Regions from separate parts of the Homo sapiens genome. Here regions 1 and 2 are each linked to region 3. The links come from fine-mapping of genetic effects on gene expression. A gene starts in region 3. Each other region holds a variant in brackets. All regions are shown on one strand. Distances are between the middles of the regions.

Region 1 (6,267 bases), 270 kb after region 3:
CACCACCACGTCCAGCTAATTTTTGTATTTTTAATAGAGATGGGGTTTCACCATGTTGGCCAGGATGGTCTCGATCTCCTGATCTTGTGATCCACCCACCTCGGTCTCCCAAAGTGCTGGGATTACAGACATATGGCATTTTAAAAATTATTTATAATACGTGAAAAATGCAAGTTACAAAGCAGCTGCTCAGTATGAGCCCGTTCTGGGAGCAGTGGGGAGAGGAGTGGTCATATTGCACAGGTTTCATTGTGTTCTCAGTGGCTGTCTGCTGATTTTTACTGTTTCCCTTTGACTCATCTATTTACCTTAACTGTAGTTTCTAAGTTTTTTTGAAGTGTTCATTACTAAGGTAATTTTTCTTTTTTCTTTTTCTTTGGAGGGGACAGAGTCTTGCTCTGTTGCTTAGGCTGGAGTGCAGTGGCTCAATCTCTACTCACTGCAACCTTGGCCTCACAGGTTCAAGCGATTCTCCTACCTCAGCCTCCTGAGTAACTGGCATTACAGGCGCCTGCCACCATGCCCAGCTAATTTTTGTACTTTTAGTAGAGATGGTTTTACCACATTGGCCAGGCTGGTCTTCAACTCCTGACCTCAAGTGATCTGCCCACCTTGGCCTCCCCAAAGTGCTGGGATTACAGGCATGAGCCACTGTGCACGGTCTAACTTTCAACAGGAGTTTTAATTTTTTTTTTTAAATTTAAAAGAAAAGACCGAGAATAAAATGTACAGAGTTTAAAGGTAGAGGCACAAAAATGGAGCCAAAAGCGAGTCTAAAAAAAAAAAATCTCTTTCCCCAGTAAAGTTCATATACTTGCTTGAGCTGGGCCACCTATTCGTCTCTCAGTCTTCAGCAGCCAAAATCAAGAGAGAAACCTAATCATTTAAAACTGTTCACAGAGTCTGTAGTAAATGCAAACTGGTAGCTCAGGAGGACAACTTTTTCTGATGTAAAACTACAAAATAAATACAATAAGTAGGAGAAGAAGAGGTGTACAAGTTCCTCTTCCCCCTCTAAAATGAAAATGGAAATGATGTATTTTAACTTCTACGAAAGTCTTCATTGAGCACAAAGAAGAAATAAGGACAGTATGAGTTAGGTGCCATTTTAGCGTAAATAGTTGAAAAAAGTGGGTATCTCCCGATTGCAGTGTGTGTATGTGCATACGTATTTATGGTGATCAGAGATGAACAGACTTCCCATACTCTCTGGGATTTGACAATTGTCCAGTGGGAGGTGGGATTGTGTAAAGTCCCGGGAAAGCACAAGGATAGAAGAAGTAGAGACACTTAAGACTTTTCAAGCCCACAAGCTGACATGTTACTGAATCAAGTTTCTGCCACTGAGTAACTTGGGACCCATCACTTAGTTTTTGAAGTTTTTGACCAGGGACTCCTAGTCCGTGAATCATGCAGAATGATGTACATGATTTTACAGGTCCTTTTTAGCTGTAAAATTCTATCATTCCAGACCACTTCTTTTTATTCATTAGTTCCATGTCTACATAGGTCTTGTTGAAAGTACTGCAGAATTGGTCCTTTCCTGAGTTTCTTTTGGAAGATTGTGTTTTGGCCCCCAAGTATTTTATACTGGCCTTGATGGAGTATAATCTCGTGTTTTGTTTATTATCATGTACCATATACTGATCCAGGGACTGAGGATGTAATGGTGAACAGGACACAATTACTGTTTACATTCTATTGAGAATGTAACAGAAAAAACAAGTAAATAATCAAATAACAAACATAATTTCAGATATTGTTAACTGCTATAAAGAAAGAAAACAGGGTAAGGGAATGACCAGTAATGTTGATTGTGGATTGCATTAGATTGAAGCGGTTGCATTTAAGCTGAGATCTGAATGATGAAAAGCTCTGGGAGAAGAGCAGTCCAGGTAGAGGAAACAGCTGGAGCAAAGGCTATGAGGTGGGGCCATGAGCTTGGCATGTTGAGGTGACAGGAAGGCCAGTGTGTGGAGCAGAATGCATGTGGTCAATGATGCAATCAGAGGTAGTCAGTGCTCGATAGTATAGGCCTTATAGGCCATTGTAAGTAGTTTTGATTATGGTCTAAGTGCAATGGGAAGCTATTGGAGGGTTTTAAGAGAAGAGGTGATATGAACTAATTTGCACTTTAGACAGTTCACTTTGGCTACTGGTTGAAGAATGGACATCAGAGGAATAAAATAGGAAGCTGGAGCTCTATTACTTGAGAGGGGTCAGATATGATGGGCCTGGAACTAATAGGAGAAAAATCATTTCAAGTCACCTGGTCTAAATTGCCTTCTTTTGTAAATGGTACAGTGGTGATCTAATCCATGTATTTAAATGAACAGAAACACTGCAGTGGATTAGTTTTTGATTTTTTGTTTAGATGTTTAATTTAAAAGTAAACCCTTACTAGTCTAATTGTACAGTTCCTTGGGTTGAAATAAAGGTGGTCTTTTTTGATAAAGAATATTTGTATTATAAATGAATGGATCTTCTAATTTCTCAGTCTTGGCTAACATTCCTTAAAATTAAAAACATTCTTACACCTCCGTATTTTCATTTT[T/A]TGTGTAAAAATAGATTATAAAGTGTCTTTTTCTGTTGTATGAATTTTTAATGTCATTTTTGGCATTTTAATTTTAAAAATTGGTTAAATATGACATATTTAAAAGTGTACATTTTGCATCTTTTAGAACTCTTCAGATGCTGCCTTTGGCAAGAGAAAGGAAAGCTTCTTTCGCCGCTGATGACTGAACTAACATGAGGGCTGAAGTGTGCAGCACATCCGTGAAATCCTAGACAGCTGTACCAAATCCCACTCGTTTGCTAAGAGCTGAGCTGAGTGACAGGGGACTTTAATTAGAGCAGCTTTTAGGAGGACTGAGAAAATGAAAAAAAAAAAAAAAAAAAGTGCATTTGGCTGGATTGGCCTGACTTGTGTTCTGACGTGCCTCTAATTAAATCATCACTGTTTCTTTCCTCAGGGATCAACGAGCAAGGGCTGTATCGAATTGTGGGTGTCAACTCCAGAGTGCAGAAGTTGCTGAGTGTCCTGATGGGTGAGTGCCGCAGTGGCTCTGCTAGGCAGGTCCCTGGATGGGGGGCCCACTCTGAAAAGTCACCAGGTCTGTGAGTAGATACAGCCTGTGGCAAAGGAATCGGGGTGTCCGTGAGCTGTCACCTAGAAGTCATCTGCCCCATCGGTCAGTTGTCATGGCTTCAGACACTGCTGGGAAAGGTTCTGAGTAGGACTGGACAAAATAAAAAATGCCAGGGCCCAGACACCACACCCTCTCTGTCTGTAGGCTCAGTGCTCTGGTCCAAGTGGCACTCAGTCACTCATGTGACCACCACACCCTACTCTGTCTTTAATAGCTTATGACTCCCTCCGTTCTCTTTTGGGACAGGTATTTAGTGGGACACACCCAATGCCCAAGGAAAGGCATCATTCTGGGCTCCAGAGGACCTCAGAGTTCATGTTCCTGATACTGAGCAGGTGTCATGTAACTCTCAGATAAAATATATATAACCAGAGAAATCTTCTGATCCTCTTTGCTTCTAGATTTCAACCGAATACCTGTCACTTGAGCAGCAGAACCTCCTTTGCCACTGGCTGATATAAATACAAAGCAGTGTCTCCAAATGTGCAGTATTTGAATCAAAAGCCCATGAGTCCATGAGCCAAATTTGCTTAGGCTGCAGATTTCCTGTATTTTTAGATATGAGTGCAGCCAGCCTCCATGAATCACATGGACCTAAATGGCAAACAGATCAGGTTTCACAGAGGCTGTTATTCCTCCCCATGGAAGCCCTGGCTTGTAGAGAGGGACTATCACTTGGGGTACGCAGCTCAGTGTTTTGGACAGGGACAGTTCTTGTGTTAGTATTTGTAATTTCTTTTGCCATCCCACTTTCTGAAAATAGCTTTCTTGTGTAAAGAAATCTCTTCTCTCATGTTGGCCAGAATGACTGTCTTCACCTCTTTTTGAGAGAGTCATTCACTTCTTGTAGCCAAAACCCTATTGTATTGCTAGTTAGAGTGAGATCTGTTGTTTAAAACTATGATTATTTGCGAGGTACTCTAGCAACGAGTATCTGGGTTTTTTTTGGTTAAGATTTGAAATATGGTTAGTTTTTGTAAAAATTAAACTTTTCATTTTGAGATAATTGTAGATTTACATTCGGTTGTAAGAAATAATATAGAGATCCTGTGTACCACTTACTCAGTCTCCTCTAAAGGTAACATCTTGCAAAACACAATTTTAATATCACAACCAAAATATTGGCATTAATTTAGTCAAGATGCAGAACACTTCCATCACTAAAAGGATTCCTTGTGATGTTGTACAAGCACATACCTCACTTCCCACCTTGCACCCTGTGCCTAACCCCTGGCGATCAGCAATCTGTTCTCTATTTCTATAATTTTGTCATTTCAAGATTATTATTTAAATGGAATTATACAATACAGAACCTTTTGGGATTGGCATTGTTTTTCAATCAGTGTAATTTTCTCAAGATTTATTTTTGCTGTTCCATGTATTAATAGTTCTTTTTTATTGCTGAGTAATATTCCATTGTATGGATGTACTGCACTTTGTCGAACCATTCATTTATTGAAGGGCACCTGAGTTGTTTCCAGTTTGGGGCAATTATGATAAAGCTTCTATAAATTTTCATATATAGTTTCTGTGTGAGCATATATTTGTTCCTCTGGGATAAATGTCCGAGTGTGCAAATTGCTGGGTTGTATGGCGATAGGGTCAATTTTTGAGAATTTCTAATATAAGGAAGAATTAAGAGTCTAATAGGTGTCAATCCTTAGTTTTTCATTTCTGACCAGAGCTGCAAACATTTGTGGGGTGTCTGCTGCTTAGAACAGATGTCAGGTGCTAGAGATTAAATTTTAGAAAGAGCTGTTCCTTTTCTGTAAGGAGTCCTGATAGGGTGAAATATGTGTGTATATGAAAGCTGTAATGTAAAGTATGATATTCATGCTTAATCTGTGCTGGGTCTAGAAGATTGAGTAGTGTAGTGAAGGAGAGAGTAGAAGAATAATTCCAATTCATGAAGTATTCTGAACAAAGGGTCTATGGTGGCTACAGCAAAGGGTATTGATTCTATGATTATTATTTTAATATTTCTGAAAGACTTAACTTGAGGCTGGGACAGGAGAGTTTTAAAGCTGAATAGCTAAGGTGGTCTTTTTTGTTGAGGAACTTGAATACTGAGCCAAGGTGTTTGGGGTTTTTTCTATAGGAAGTAAGAAACTATTAAAAGTTCTCAATAGTGGGATTATATCCATTATAATGCTTTTGCACACAAAAGTGTCAAGAAGACAATTCAGAATAGTTTACAAGGAAAAAAAAAGCATCTATTTGCTCATATAACTGGTAAATCCAAGACAGAAGCATGGCAGAGTCAGGGATGCCAATGATGTCTTTACTTTTGCTAGATCCTTTGCCCCTTCCTTCTTCTGGCTTCTCATGTTCTCTGACCTCTTCTGGGCTTGGTGTGGCTTTGTTCTCTGTGGGAGTGTCCCAGACAGGTTCAGCCTCTGCAGTCCTTGGAGCCTGTGGTCACTGAGAAGAAAGTGCCTTTCTTGACCATGTTGGCAGAAGGCTCCAGCGAGGACTTTGCTTGGTCAGTATGGGGCCATTCACATGATTCGTTTCTCAATCTCAGACCAGTCACATGGCCCATGGCAGATGGCCTGGATCCTGTGCGTATGTTGGGGGATGTGGGGGATGGGGTGGACAGTTGGGGTGGGGACGGGGTTAGTCCCTGAAACCCAGTGGACTGAGCAGGATTATTGATAGGAAGATGGAGAAGTGCTTTCCTGAAATAATGGCTGCTGTTAGCTTTTTTAAAAAAGTATATCTAATACAGATGTAACAATATCAGATTCTAGCATTAGGAGCATATTGTTGGCTCCAATTTGGAGCATGTGTTTGATTATGGAAAGACATGGAGGAGGAAGTTGGTTGTAATAGATCAGGCAAGGCAAACCCTATCAAAGACTGAACTAAATAGGTGCTCTGAAGTCAGGAAAAAAGGACACACTCATAGTGAGTATACAGAGAGAATCAACAGGACTTTTAACCAACTTGATATGGGGGAACAGAAGGGGCAGAGAGATTTCAAAGATGACAGATTATTATGTAAGATGACACTAATGAAAAGAAATATGACATTTTAGACTGGTTTGCTAATCTAAAAAAGAAGCACTTTAGCTCAGTTGTGTTAAGCAAAAGAGTGGTTATGAAAGGATCTTGTTTT
Region 2 (6,267 bases), 260 kb after region 3:
GAGTGTTCATTCATTTAATCCTCGTTACTGTATTTCTCAAAGTGGGGTGTGCACACCACTGGTGGTACACTAGGTCATTTGAGAGAGTATATTTTAAATTACCATCTAGACTTCTGTATTTATTTTGATGTGTATTGTGGGGGAACATAAGTTCTCTGAAATCCCCTGATTTTATTTTGTTTTATTTCATTTATTTTTTTGAGACCCCTGTCACCCAGGCTGGAGTGCAGTGGTGTGATCACGGCTCACTGCAACCTCCGCCTCCTGGGCTCAGGTGATTCTCCTGCCTCAACCTCCCTAGTAGCTGGGATTACAGGTGCCTGCTACCACACCTGGCTAATTTTTTTTATTTTTAGTAGAGATGGGGTTTCACCATGTTGGCCAGGCTGGTCTCGGACTCCTGACCTCAGGTGATCCGCCTGCCTCGGCCTCCCAAAGTGTTGGGATTACAGGCATGAGCCACTGCGCCTGGCCAATCCCCTGATTTTACAAATGTTATTGCTTAGCACAGGGGTCCACTTTTTTTAGTAAAGGGCCAGATAGTAAATATTTTTATTTTTATAGGAGTATTCAACTCCGCTATGGTAGTGTGAAAGCAGTCACAGACAATATGGAAATGAGCAGGTGTGGGTGTTTTCCAGTAAAACTTTGTTTTACAAAACAGGCAATGGTGAATTTGGCCCAGGGACTGTAGTTTATTAACCCTTGGCTTAACACAAGGCTAAGTTTTTAAAATTAGTCTAAATGGGATGGCATGAGGTTTTGAGAGGGAGCATGAAAGTGTCACACGATGGGCTGCCATTTGTACAAATGCTGTTCACAGCAACTGAGTTTCCAAAGGAGCTCACAGGCTTAAAGAGGTCAAGGGAGCACAGTTGAGAAGTAGTGAAGCTCATACTCAAACCCTAGCCTGCCTCATTGCCAGGGTCATTTTTTTCCTGCAACACTTCATATGCTTGAAATCTTTGATCCATTCTGCCATCCTGTTCATATGTGGTCCACCCATGGGGGCTGGAAGGAATTTCATCATCAGACTCCAACATCTAACCCCTCTAGTTCTTTGTGGCTGAGGGGCCATCCCATATTCCTTCTTAGTGCACCACCTCATTAGAGCCCTCAGTGGTTCCTCAAACACCTGTGCACAGTGCTGGGTGCACAAGGGTCACGCATTTCACTGACTGGCTTCCCCAGGGTCAGACCCTTAGTGTGGCCCACCACTCTCCCACAGGGATTTGGCAACACAACATAATGCTTTATATGTTGTTTCTGTACATCCACTCATCCTTCTTTAGGCCGTCATTCAGAGCAAACTCCCTGATGGCGTTTTATTCAGGTTTGCCTTGTTTTATGAGGACAAGATTGAGGACCAGGAGAGGAGATGGGGAGGGACATCATTACCATTGCTCTGTTTCCTATTGTTGTGCCTCTGACTGTACATTTCCTTCATCTCTGTTCCTCAGCCTCCCTTGATCTGTAAAACAGAAAAGGAGATTTAGGCTTGAAAACTGTAGGGAAAGCCTTGATGGGATCGCCTGGGCCACTATTTTTAAAAGACATCTAAAGCCTTCAGCCATTACCAAAAATCCACCGTCTCATGAAAGCAGCAGAGGGCAGAAAAGAGGATTTGTTTTTCTTTTGCTTCTAGTCACCTTTGGCCTTTTGCTGTTAGAACACCCACAGTTGAGAGGCAGGAGGAGGCAGCCACCGGTAACCAGGATCCTTTTGGGATCAGAACCATCCAGAGGCTGCCAGGCCTCTGCTGGTCGGTGGCTTATAAATAGAACATTTCCCCTTTTAAACCTGAGAAGGGTGGAAGGCATTAATGGGCACAGTGGCCTGGCCGCCTATGCACTGGCCCACGAGGCAGTCAGCTGAGTGCAGCATCCCCTCCAGCTTTCTCTCCAGGCCTGCCAGGTCTGAGCTGATAGAGGACAGACACTCTGCCTCCCTCCCTTGCCTGCGTTCCTTCCTGCCCTCCTCCCCACACCCTTTTTCTTTCCCCTTTCTCCTCTCTCCTGTGCATGCAGTTTCCGTGGCCACCACTTTCATCTTCTGAGCCGCAGTCAGGCGAGGTGGTATAATTCTAGCTCTCCCTAGGTGCTGACTTTCTACACCTCACTTTTCATTATGAGTTGCCTGTGCAACACAGTTGCTGTGGTGCATTGAGCTTGAATTACATTTAGTTGAGCTGTAATACCCCAGCTCTAGAATAGCCCTGGCTCGGAGGGCAGGGGGCTGGAGAGAGAAGAAGGGGCAGGAACAGCTTGTTTTTGCAGATATTTTATTATTTGAGTTCCCAGCTATTTTGTTTGATGAGACCCTGGCCCCCAAAGCTATGACTGGTGGTGGTACTCCTTGGACTTGCATGGATAATCAGAAGCCTTTCTGCTTGTCCTAAAAGACACTTGACAAATCTACCCTCTCTCTCAGCTAGCTTTAGACTGGCAGATGCAGCCAGTGTATGCCTCTGCCATGGCCTAATATTCCCCTTTCCCTCAGTGATGTGGGCTCTGTACTGACAGCAGGCTGCAGCCTGAGCAGGTGTGAGCCACCCGTTGCCATCCCAGTTTGGGCTTCAGCCAAGAGACAGTGAGCAGGTCCCTGGCTACATCTTTAACCCCTAAAGCCCAGTGCAAGGGGTTATTGAGACAGAGACTAAAATATTTCCCCCACTGCCACCGAGTACAGGCTTCCAGTTATTGTGGTTAATGTTTATTGAGTACATACTGGGGAGTGGGCAACATGTTCACTGCTTGATATACGTTATGTCATTTGATCCTCCTAAGAACCCTATGAGCTAGATACTATTATTGACCCCATTTACAGATGTGAAAACTGAGACTTCATTCTGAGGGCAAACTTGGTCACTCCCTGCACTGATCAGAGTTGT[C/T]AGAGCCTGCAGCTCACAATCGGCATGTAAGATTGAGCAGAGGGTAGAGTAGTGCTTAGAAGTGTTAGCTCTGGAGTATTCCACACGTGGTTTGAAATCCCAGCCTCAAGAATTACTGAGTGTGTGATTTTGAGAAATTAATTTCTCCAAGCCTCAGTTTCTTTGTCTGAAGGTGGGAATAGTTTTAATAATTAAATCTTTGGTTTTTTTGGAAGAATAAATGAGATTAGGATGGACATCCTTTGCTCAATGGTGCCTGGTATTATCGGCAATGATTAAATGTTGCGCTTTATTCTTATTACCAATAATGTCATCATTATCCAAAGCCAGAGCCCGTTTATATAAAAACGTGGCACTGTACAGTCTCTTTAAAGTTCCTCCGGGCATTGCCTTATTTGATTTTCACAACACCTGCATCTTATATGTGAGGGGAATGGGTCAGAGAGGTGAAGTATGCCCAGCTTACACAAGCAGTTTGTGGAGACACCAGGGCTCAAATCTTAGGCCTTTGATTCTGAATGCCCTCTCTTTCCCTGCCCTTCGCTGCCTCAGAGTTTGTTGTGACCAACAAATTGTTCTTAAAGCATTTCGAGGTAAGAAGACAGATAGGTAAAGGCAGGAAAGTGACCTTGATGGGCAGAGGCAGTTGGTTCTCTGTTTGAAACACTTCCACCCTCAGAAAGCTGATGATGATCTCTTTCGGTTGAGAAATCAGTGCAAAACCACCGGGCCTTAAGGCAGAAGGGAATTGAGGCCACTGTGTAATTCATTCTCAGAATGTCCAGATCCCCATGTAGGAGACAAATGGTCCTGATTAAGCTGGTCAGTGTTACTGCAGTGTGCATTAAGCCTTGCTCTTTTGCTGCTATTCTGATTTGGAATTTTAAGGTGGACTAGGAGATTGCAGAAGTAGAAACCCACAAAGAAACACTCCTTCCATCCCAGGCAGATGTATAGTCCTCAGCCTGTGCTGTGCAAGAACCTACGTGCTGTCACCCTGGATGCCTGTCTTTTGCCAAGAATTGGAACACTCTTTAGAACCTCCCCTGACTGTGGCTGAGAGCTGGTAGGTTTATTCCCATCCAGGCAGATTTTTGTTTCTGTTCCTGCTACCTATTTTACTTTACTCTATGTCTCTTTCAGCTTATTTTTCTGTGTGTTTGTTTTCAAGAAACAATGAAAAAAAAATAGATGCCTTTGTATCTGGTAGGCTAGGGAAGAAAAGTCTGACTAGCAGTATTCTTGCTTTGAGGTCAGGGTATGAATGAGATCTCTGTCAAACCTGTTTGTCTCATGCTTCCCACTGCAGGGGCCTGAACTCTAGAAGGTACCAATATATGCAGCCACCTGTCACTATTCAAGGCTCCTGGAATGTGGAGACTTTTGGCCTGTCGGCTCCTTGTGTTTTCAGCTGGTGAAAACATGGATTGTATTTATTCTTTCAGGACATATTTATTGAGATTAGTCATGAACAGGGCAGATTGTCTCTGCTCTCATGGAGCATATACAATGAAAAGAAATTGACAACAAAGAGTAAGCAAGTAGATAAAGGTATAATTTCTGGTAGAGATGAGTATTCTGCAAAAATAAGGGCTGGTGGATAGAGGATAAGGGAGAAGGGAGTGATTTTAGATACCTGGAGCAGGAAAGGTCTCTCTAAAGAGGTGACATTTGAGAAGAAATCTGAACAAAGGGAGGGAGGGAAGCGTGTCAGGAGTGGGTAGATGAGTGTTATTGATGGAGTGACCAACATGTGCAGAGGCCCTGAGGTGACGTGAGCTACTTGTGTTCTAGGAATATCAGGAAGAACAGTGGTGCCCGGATGGGAGGAGGCCCTGGGGGTGAGTGGTCAGGTAGGCTGGGGCTAGACCATGTGGGGCCAGGAGATAAGACTGCATTCTTAGTGTGAAGAGAAGTCACTGGAGAGTTGTGATCAGGTGCATGACATGAGCTGATGTATGTTTTTAAAAGATGACTCTGGCTGCTGGTGGGGAATAAACCGTAGTGGGGTGGGTGGGGGTGGGGGGTGGGGGCAAAATTGAAGCAGCTGGGAGACTGCTGCAGGCAGTCCAGGCAAAGGATGATGGCAGCTTGGATCAAGGTATTAGCAATGGATATGGTGAAGAGTAGTTAGATTCTGGATACGGTTTTAAGTTATTAGTGACAGGATTGGTTAATGGATTGGATGTGGTGTGTGAATTGGATATAGGGTGTGAGAGAAAGCAAAGATCAAGGATGATGTTACTGGAACAGAATATCTTACAGGTAGAATATGGTCCTCTCCCATCTCATTCTTTCAGCCAGGTTGAACATAGTGCATGTTTGGGGACACATTAGGACTTGAGCTCCCCAATTTATTATTTCTGTCACCTTCATGATTTTTTGTGTTTTTTTTTTTTTTGAGATGGAGTCTTACCCTGTCACCCAGGCTAGAATGCAGTGGTACAATCTTGGCTCACTGCTACCTTTACCTTCCTGGTTCAAGTGATTATCGTGCCTCAGCCTCCCAAGTAGCTGGTATTACAGGCACCTGCCACCATGCCTAGCTAATTTTTTTTTCTTTTTTTTTTTTTTTAGTAGAGACAGGATTTCATCATGTTGGCCAGGTTGGTCTCGAATTCCTGACCTCAAGTGATCCACCTGCCTCGGCCTCCCAAAGTGCTGGGATTCTGGGTATGAGCCACTGCACCTGGCTGACTTTTTAAATATATACATATACTACTTTTATTATTAATTTGCTTACTGGTTTTAAACCAATTCATCCATTTTTTACCTCAGTTTATTTAAAAAAGAAATATATTTTGCTATGTGTGATAAATCAGTAGATTTCTAATATTCATTAAAATAAAAGTATAACTGAGAAATGTTTGTGAACCTCTTGGAATCATCCCATATGCCAAAGTGGAACAATCCAGCATTCCATATTAAGATGCATAGCACTGGCAAATAGTTGTTGTCCAGCAGGGAATGTGGTATAGATACTGGCAATTGACTAAATTAAGTCATTTTTGTTTGTTTTTGGTGGTAATAATCTTAATTGCTTAGTATATAGTACAGTGTTTTTCCAAGTGGGGTTCTCGCATGTACTGATGCATAATTGCCGGGAGAGGGCCCAGAATCTGCATTTCTACAAGTGCACTCTTGTTCACTGGAGTTGAGAGCCGCTACTGGAATAGAAATGGTAGGATCCACAGAACCTGATCCACAGCCCCCAGTTCCTTTCTGACTGTCTCTAGCAGAAAGCAAAGAGTAGAAGAGGATGAGCCCAAGAGTCAGACTGAGTTAAATAAAATCTTGGTTCCACTACTCACTGATGCTATAATCTTACAGAAATTCCTTAACCTGACTGAGCGTAGGTTTCCTATCTACAAAATACG
Region 3 (6,267 bases):
GTCTCACTCTGTCACCCAGGCTGGAGTGCAGTGGTGCGATCTCGGCTCACTGCAACCTCTGCCTCCCAAGTTCAAGCGATTCTCCAGTCTCAGCCTCCCAAGTAGCTGGGACTACAGGCATTCACCACCACACCCGGCTAATTTTTTTACTTTTAGTAGAGACGGGGTTTCACCATGTTGGGCAGCCTGGTCTCGAACTCCTGACCTCAAGTAATCTGCCTGCCTAGGCCTCCCAAAGTGCTGGGATTACAGGCTTGGGCCACCACACCCAGCCTGTACTGCTGCATTCTGATTCTCTCTTTCTAGTAATACTGCTGAAAGTGTGGGAGGTTTTTTGTGGAAATTCCATATTAAATTTATGAGAAATTTACACATTATTCACATATTTACATATTTGTCTGTGAATGGGCATATTAAGTTATATGTTTGTGCCACATAGAATTATTAATATTATCTCGGTAAGCTGGTTCAAGTTACAACTCTGGGCCTCAATTTCTTATCTGAAAAAATGGGAACTATCATAGTACCAGTCTCACCCTGTAGGGATTATATGCATGTAAATAATTTTTTTGTTTGTTTTTTGAGACAGAGTCTCTCTCCGTCACCCAGGCTGGAGTGCAGTGGCACGACCTCAGCTCACTGCAAACTCTGCCTCCTGGGCTCAAGCAATTCTTGTGTCTCAGCTTCCTGAGTAGCTGGGATTAAAGGCGTGTGCCACTATGCCAGCTATAAATGCATGTAAATAATTTACCATAGTGCCTGGCATAAACTGAGAGCTTAACAAATGATAGCTGATATATTATTGTTGTTATTATTAATACATATATATTATTTTACACACATTTGCCTACTATTCCTCAATGGGATAAAACAAATAATTGTGGATCACATTTTATTTCATTCATTTAGCATGTATTGAATGTTACCATTTATGCTGGGCCCACTGTGGCAGATTATGTTTTTCAGAAATAGCTACTATAATATCTCCCATTCTTGTCATTCCCCCATCAAGAGGTACAGTCTAATCTCCTTCCTTTGAAGCTGGGTGGGCTTATGAGTTGCTTGTAGCCAATGAAGGTGGTAGAAGTATGTGGCTTCCAAGTGATTCAGGGCAGGCAAGGCCCAAAATTGCAGCTTAGCCCAGGAGGCTTCTTGGCTTTGCCCAGAAAAGAATTCAAGGGCAAGCCAGTGGTAAGAGAAAGCAACTTTCATTGAATCAGTGCTGCTCCTTGTGGAACAGGGCTATCCCATAGGGAGTGTGCTCAGGATGGGCAGTGTACAGGGCTGTTGGCAGCTGTACCTATACCTACCTTTAATTATATGCTAATTAAGAGGTGGGTTATTTAGAACTTTCTGGAAAGGAGGCAGGGAGTTTCCAGAACCATATAAGGTAACTTCCAGGCCATTGCCATGGCCTGTTGCAATGGCATTTGTAAACTGTCATGGCAATGGTGGGAGTGTCTCTATGCTAATGAGCAGTGAGGGCAACTAAAAGTGTCTTTTTTCCTTGCCTGCTGGTTTCTGCTGGCTGCTTCACTGAATCCCGTTTGGAATGAATCCTGGTTTGATCAGTGGGGTTGTGATTGGAAAACAAGTCCTGCAGGCCTCTCACCTCACAAGGCTAGGTCATAAAAGGTGATGCACCTTTCTCCTTGTGAGCTGTATATGTTCACACTGGAGCCTTAAGGCTGCCATACTGGGAGGAAGCCTAAACTGGGCCACAGAGAAAGGCCATATGGAGAAGCCCTGAGTCTACCTGAAAAGTGGGATGCCCAGCTAACCATCCACTCCTCCAGCTCCTGTCACCATCCAACTGCAATCACATGAGAGACCTCAAGCCTTTGGCTTCCCTAAATTTCTAACCCACAGAGATTGTGAGAGAAAATAAAATGATTGCTGTTGTCTTAAACCATTAACTTTTGGTATCATTTATTCTGTATTAATAGATAACCAGAACACCTACCTTTAGGTGCTCAAGATAAAGCATTAAACAGATTTACTTTCATAGGGTTTCCATTCTAGATCTTTCTCATCTTTGGCAAGTGAAGAACAATTGTTTTTGGGTTGTAATTATCTATCAGATAGCTGTCTGGACCTGCTATCAAGTCTAAATTTGTAGATACACCTATCAAAGAGATCACATTCACTTATTTATACATTTACTTATTTATTTTACAATTTTTTGTAGAGATGGGGGGGGTCTCGCTGTGTTGCCCAAGATGGTCTTGAACTCTTGACCCCAAGCAATCCTCTCACCTGGCCTCCAAAAGTTATGGATTACAGGTGTGAGCCACCATGCTCCATTTATGAATTTAATACATTAATTGCTTTCTTAATATAGATGGGACACCTCTGACCCCTCCTGAGTGAAAAATCCATGTTCCCAAGCACCCAGGCCTTCTATCCTATCACAAGGCATGGTTATCGCTTGTTTGCTTCCATCTCACCTAATACCACCAGCAGCTAAATTCATTCTGTTATTCATCTTTGTATTCTTACCATCTAGGCTAGTGCCTGCACATAGCAGACCTATTTAAAAAACAAACCAACCCAAACAAACATGAAGCCCCCACGTAGCTGAAGGAGGGCTGCTGGTTCCTAGACATAGAGATAATTTATTCAAGGACAGTCCCTATCCTCCAGGAGTTAACAATTCAGCACTAGACACCCTGTGGGACCCAGCCTGACAAGTGCAACGAGTGAGATGCCAGAATTGAGTCCTGCGGTCGAACAGAGGGACTACAGGGCAACGCACTGGGCGTGGGAGGTGGAGATGGCTCTGGGAAAGGATCCATTCATTTATTCTACATTTATCAATCACCGTAGCACACACAGCACATAGTAAGTGCTCAATATCTGTTATTAAATGCCAGCCACTGTGCTAGGTGCCAGGATGCAACAGCGGACAAGAAAATTGCAGGGGCACTTGCCCTCGTGGGGCTTACCGTGTAGCGAAGGATGACAGGCAGTAGACTGTCATCTTATTATGTAAAATTGTGCTAGATGCAGAGCAGGAAAATAACAGGCGGCTGAAATTCTAGTAATGATGTGAGCTCCTTCGGCTGAGGGGAACCGTGGGCGGGTTCTGAGCAGGAGTGGCCGTGAGGGGGACGGACCGTAGGGGGCGGGAAGACTGCAGGCAAGAGCTGGTAATTTTAAGATGCAAATAACATTTTTCTGCCTGACTGGAAGAGGAGCGTTTGGTCGCTCGGGATTCTCCCGGAGCAGGGGGCTGTATTTTGAGTGTAAAATCGGTTGCCCCGCAGTGCAGGGCAGGCGGTGGTGAACTGCAGCCCTAGTCCCCAGGTTTTTCATGCTTGGCACATCGAGGCTCTTCGGCCCCCAGGACCAGCAGACTCGCCATGCGTGGCTCGGATTCGGGCTGGAGCAGGCGGGCAAGGTAGCGGGGGCGGGTGCACAGCAACGCTCACCCCTAGGTTTCGGGGTCTGCAACGCTGGGAGGGCAAGAGGAGGCGGAGTTTGCGCTGCGGACCTAGGCGTTGGCGAGGGCCACGCCCCCAGCCGCAGACCCTGCCTCCAGGCCCCTTTGATTGGATCAAGACCGCGGAAGGGCCGGGCGTCCTCGGGCGGCCTGAGGGTCGGGCAGGGGAGGGTGCGCTGATTGGCCCGGCGGGGATTAAGTCATCGCTAGCAGGTTCGAGCGGCCCAGACACCGGCGGGGCGGCCGAGGCTGCTGTGAGAGGGCGCTCGAGGCTGCCGAGAGCTAGCTAGCGAAGGAGGCGGGGAGGCGGCGTCTGCACTCGCTCGCCCGCTCGCTCGCTTCCCGGCGCCGCTGCGGGTCCGCGCTGCGTTTCCTGCTCGCGATCCGCTCCGTTGCCCGCGCCCGGAACAGCAGCACCTCGGCCGGGTCCGAGCTCGGTTCGGGAGTCTTGCGCGCCGGCGGACACCGCGCGCGGAGTGAGCCAGCGCCACACCTGTGGAGCCGGCGGCCGTCGGGGGAGCCGGCCGGGGTCCCGCCGCGTGAGTGCTCTGGGCGGCGGGCGGCCCGGGCCCCGGCGGAGGCGCGCCCCCCGGCTGGGCGCCGCGCGCACCATGGGGCTCCCAGCGCTCGAGTTCAGCGACTGCTGCCTCGATAGTCCGCACTTCCGAGAGACGCTCAAGTCGCACGAAGCAGAGCTGGACAAGACCAACAAATTCATCAAGGAGCTCATCAAGGACGGGAAGTCACTCATAAGCGCGCTCAAGAGTGAGTGTCCCGAGCCCCTCGGGGACGCGGCTCCGGGGCGGGAGGAACTGGGAGGTGGCGCTTAGCCCGGGTTGCCCGCGCGTCTGCCGGGTTTCTGCTCCCGGTACACTGGGGGACGGGTGTCGACGCCTCCGAGGCAGGAAGGATACGTAAAGCGGGCGAACCAGCAACCATCAGATGAAGAGAGAGACCCGTCGCTCCGCCTTTTGCGTTCAGGGATGGTCGGGAGGTGACCCAGCGCGGGTGGTGCTCTGGGGCAGCGCGGGTGGGCGTGGGCGTGCGCGGCACGCAGGTGTCCCAGCAGTGGGGCCAGAGTGCCGAGCGCGCCGCAGCCAGCGGGCAGATCCCATCGTGTCCACAGCTCCAGCTCCCTTAGGGGCAGAGTTGCTCAGCCTTGAGTGCCCAACCGTGAGAATGGAGCGTGCCCTGCCGAGGGGGCGCTGCCTCCCCTTGGGAAAAGGTGGGTTGTGACTGCTTCGCTCCCTGTACGCAGCTCCAGCCTAGTCAGGCCGCCGGGTTCCCTGGGTGGAATGCTTGGTTAGCTTGCGATTCCTTGGAGTATTGGCAGCCAGTAATCTCTAAATCTGGAATCAGTACGTGCGCAGGTTCTGATTCTTGTGTTTAGCAGAAGGTGATAGGGGTGGGAGTAGAGAATCAGAGTGTTCCTTTACTCTAAACTGTGGGCGAGGGTTTAAAAATAGAATGTACATATCCCAACTCTCTCCCTCTCCTGCTCCCAAGCTCTCCTTTTTACCTCTTCCGTTATCCTTGTAAAGGTCTGAGAAGGAATATCCATAATTCTCAGAAAGAAGTTCAAACGTATTTCAAAGATTCTTGGACCTTTTGTAAAACCATTTTTGCGTTTTTTCCTTTTGGTACAAGGGGAGAGATGCAATTTTGCATTCTGCTTCACTTTTGCAGAGCCAGAGAGTTTCTTTTTCTGGCCAAATAAGCGTGCTCTAGGGATGAGTGCTTTGGATTGTGAGAACGTTTTTGGTGCCTTTTCAGTCTCCCCATTTAAAAATAGCTCAGTCCATCTTTTAGTTTTAAGAATCAGGAACCACATGAAGGCAGATAGTGGAATTGTCTCTGACTCTGTTACTGTATCTGTTTCTGTGATGGATTTCTTAGTAGGTGATACCTTTCAGCTAAGAAATCTTGCCTTAGCAGAGTAGAGTCGTAGCTGTGGGAATTGTTCCCAGGCCTCTTTAAAGGGCACTTACAAAAGTCAGGTGCCTGAGATGTCATTTTGTCAGCTTGTTGCTTCTAAAAATGAAGAGAGAGACAATGGAATGCCAGGGCAGCCCAAAGTGCCAATCTTTTGGGATGAAATGAACACAGGACTGTGATGTGATGAGGCTTCTTAGAGGCAGATTCTTAGGCTGTGCCTTACCTGAAACATATGAACAGACCCTTCCTTTGTCAATAATCAAGGCCATTCTTGGTTTAGGGGATGGGGGTCCCTGGTTTGGAGTAAGTTAGGGGCCCACTTACAGGTTGGGCCCAGGAATTTTGATTGAACCTCAGGCTGGCTTTAGTGAGTTCTCTGCTTCACTCAGCAAACTTTTGGTGTGATTGTGGTGTACTGGGTACTGCACTGGGCACTAAGGGTGTAGGAGTGAATATTTTGCTGCTCCTGTGCTTACAGAGGTGTACTTCATTCCAGGCACTGCTTCACATATAATTATCTCATGTGCTTAGATTCATTCTGCAAATGAGAAAACAGAGACTGGGGGAAGCATTACCTCTGAGTCACACAGCTCTAGCAGCAGGACCAGAGCTTTTGAATCCACCTGGTTTGAGCCAGAGATGGAGTCCCTGCCAGTGCAGAGCTCTTGACTTCTGCCCCATCTCACTTGCCCGGAATGGAACCTCTTGCACCAAGCCCTAGAATTTGGACTTGTGTTTTCTATTTTGGCATTGAATCTGAGGAGGGTGCGTTTGGGTGACTGGCAGTTTTCCTACCACTAGTTTTTGGGGGCAAGAATTCTTTGGTAGGAAGAAACATTGCAGTGATAGAGTTGAAGTGTTATTTAAGCTGTCTAATGGAATGGATCAGC

Direction of the effects. Positions count from the first base shown, and alleles are read on the strand shown. Sizes are in standard deviations (SD) of each study's normalised expression. Not every link is listed here.
In carriers of allele C in region 2, the expression in testis of the gene that starts at base 3,669 in region 3 tends to be lower than with T alone (small effect, 0.37 SD a copy in GTEx).

The links. PIP is the estimated chance that this variant, and not a neighbour inherited with it, causes the effect.
Region 1: its variant is fine-mapped to the expression of ARHGAP26 in whole blood (TOPMed, PIP 0.93).
Region 2: its variant is fine-mapped to the expression of ARHGAP26 in testis (GTEx, PIP 0.91).

The regions. Positions count from the first base shown.
Region 1 is chr5:143,038,844-143,045,110 of GRCh38, forward strand. It overlaps ARHGAP26 (Rho GTPase activating protein 26), which reads left to right. Exons shown (of 23, transcript NM_001135608.3): 14 at 2,973-3,047. Among named protein-coding and RNA genes, the nearest start is that of ARHGAP26-IT1, 150 kb to the right of the region's middle. The variant T/A (reference allele first, on the strand shown) is at 2,555.
Region 2 is chr5:143,021,899-143,028,165 of GRCh38, forward strand. The region is part of intron 12 of ARHGAP26 (Rho GTPase activating protein 26); the gene reads left to right. Among named protein-coding and RNA genes, the nearest start is that of ARHGAP26-AS1, 160 kb to the left of the region's middle. RefSeq lists an enhancer at 8-97. The variant C/T (reference allele first, on the strand shown) is at 2,891.
Region 3 is chr5:142,766,709-142,772,975 of GRCh38, forward strand. ARHGAP26 (Rho GTPase activating protein 26) reads left to right here and starts at 3,669. Exons shown (of 23, transcript NM_001135608.3): 1 at 3,669-4,207. The coding sequence starts at 4,054. RefSeq lists silencers at 3,473-3,882, 3,893-4,012 and an enhancer at 4,308-5,143.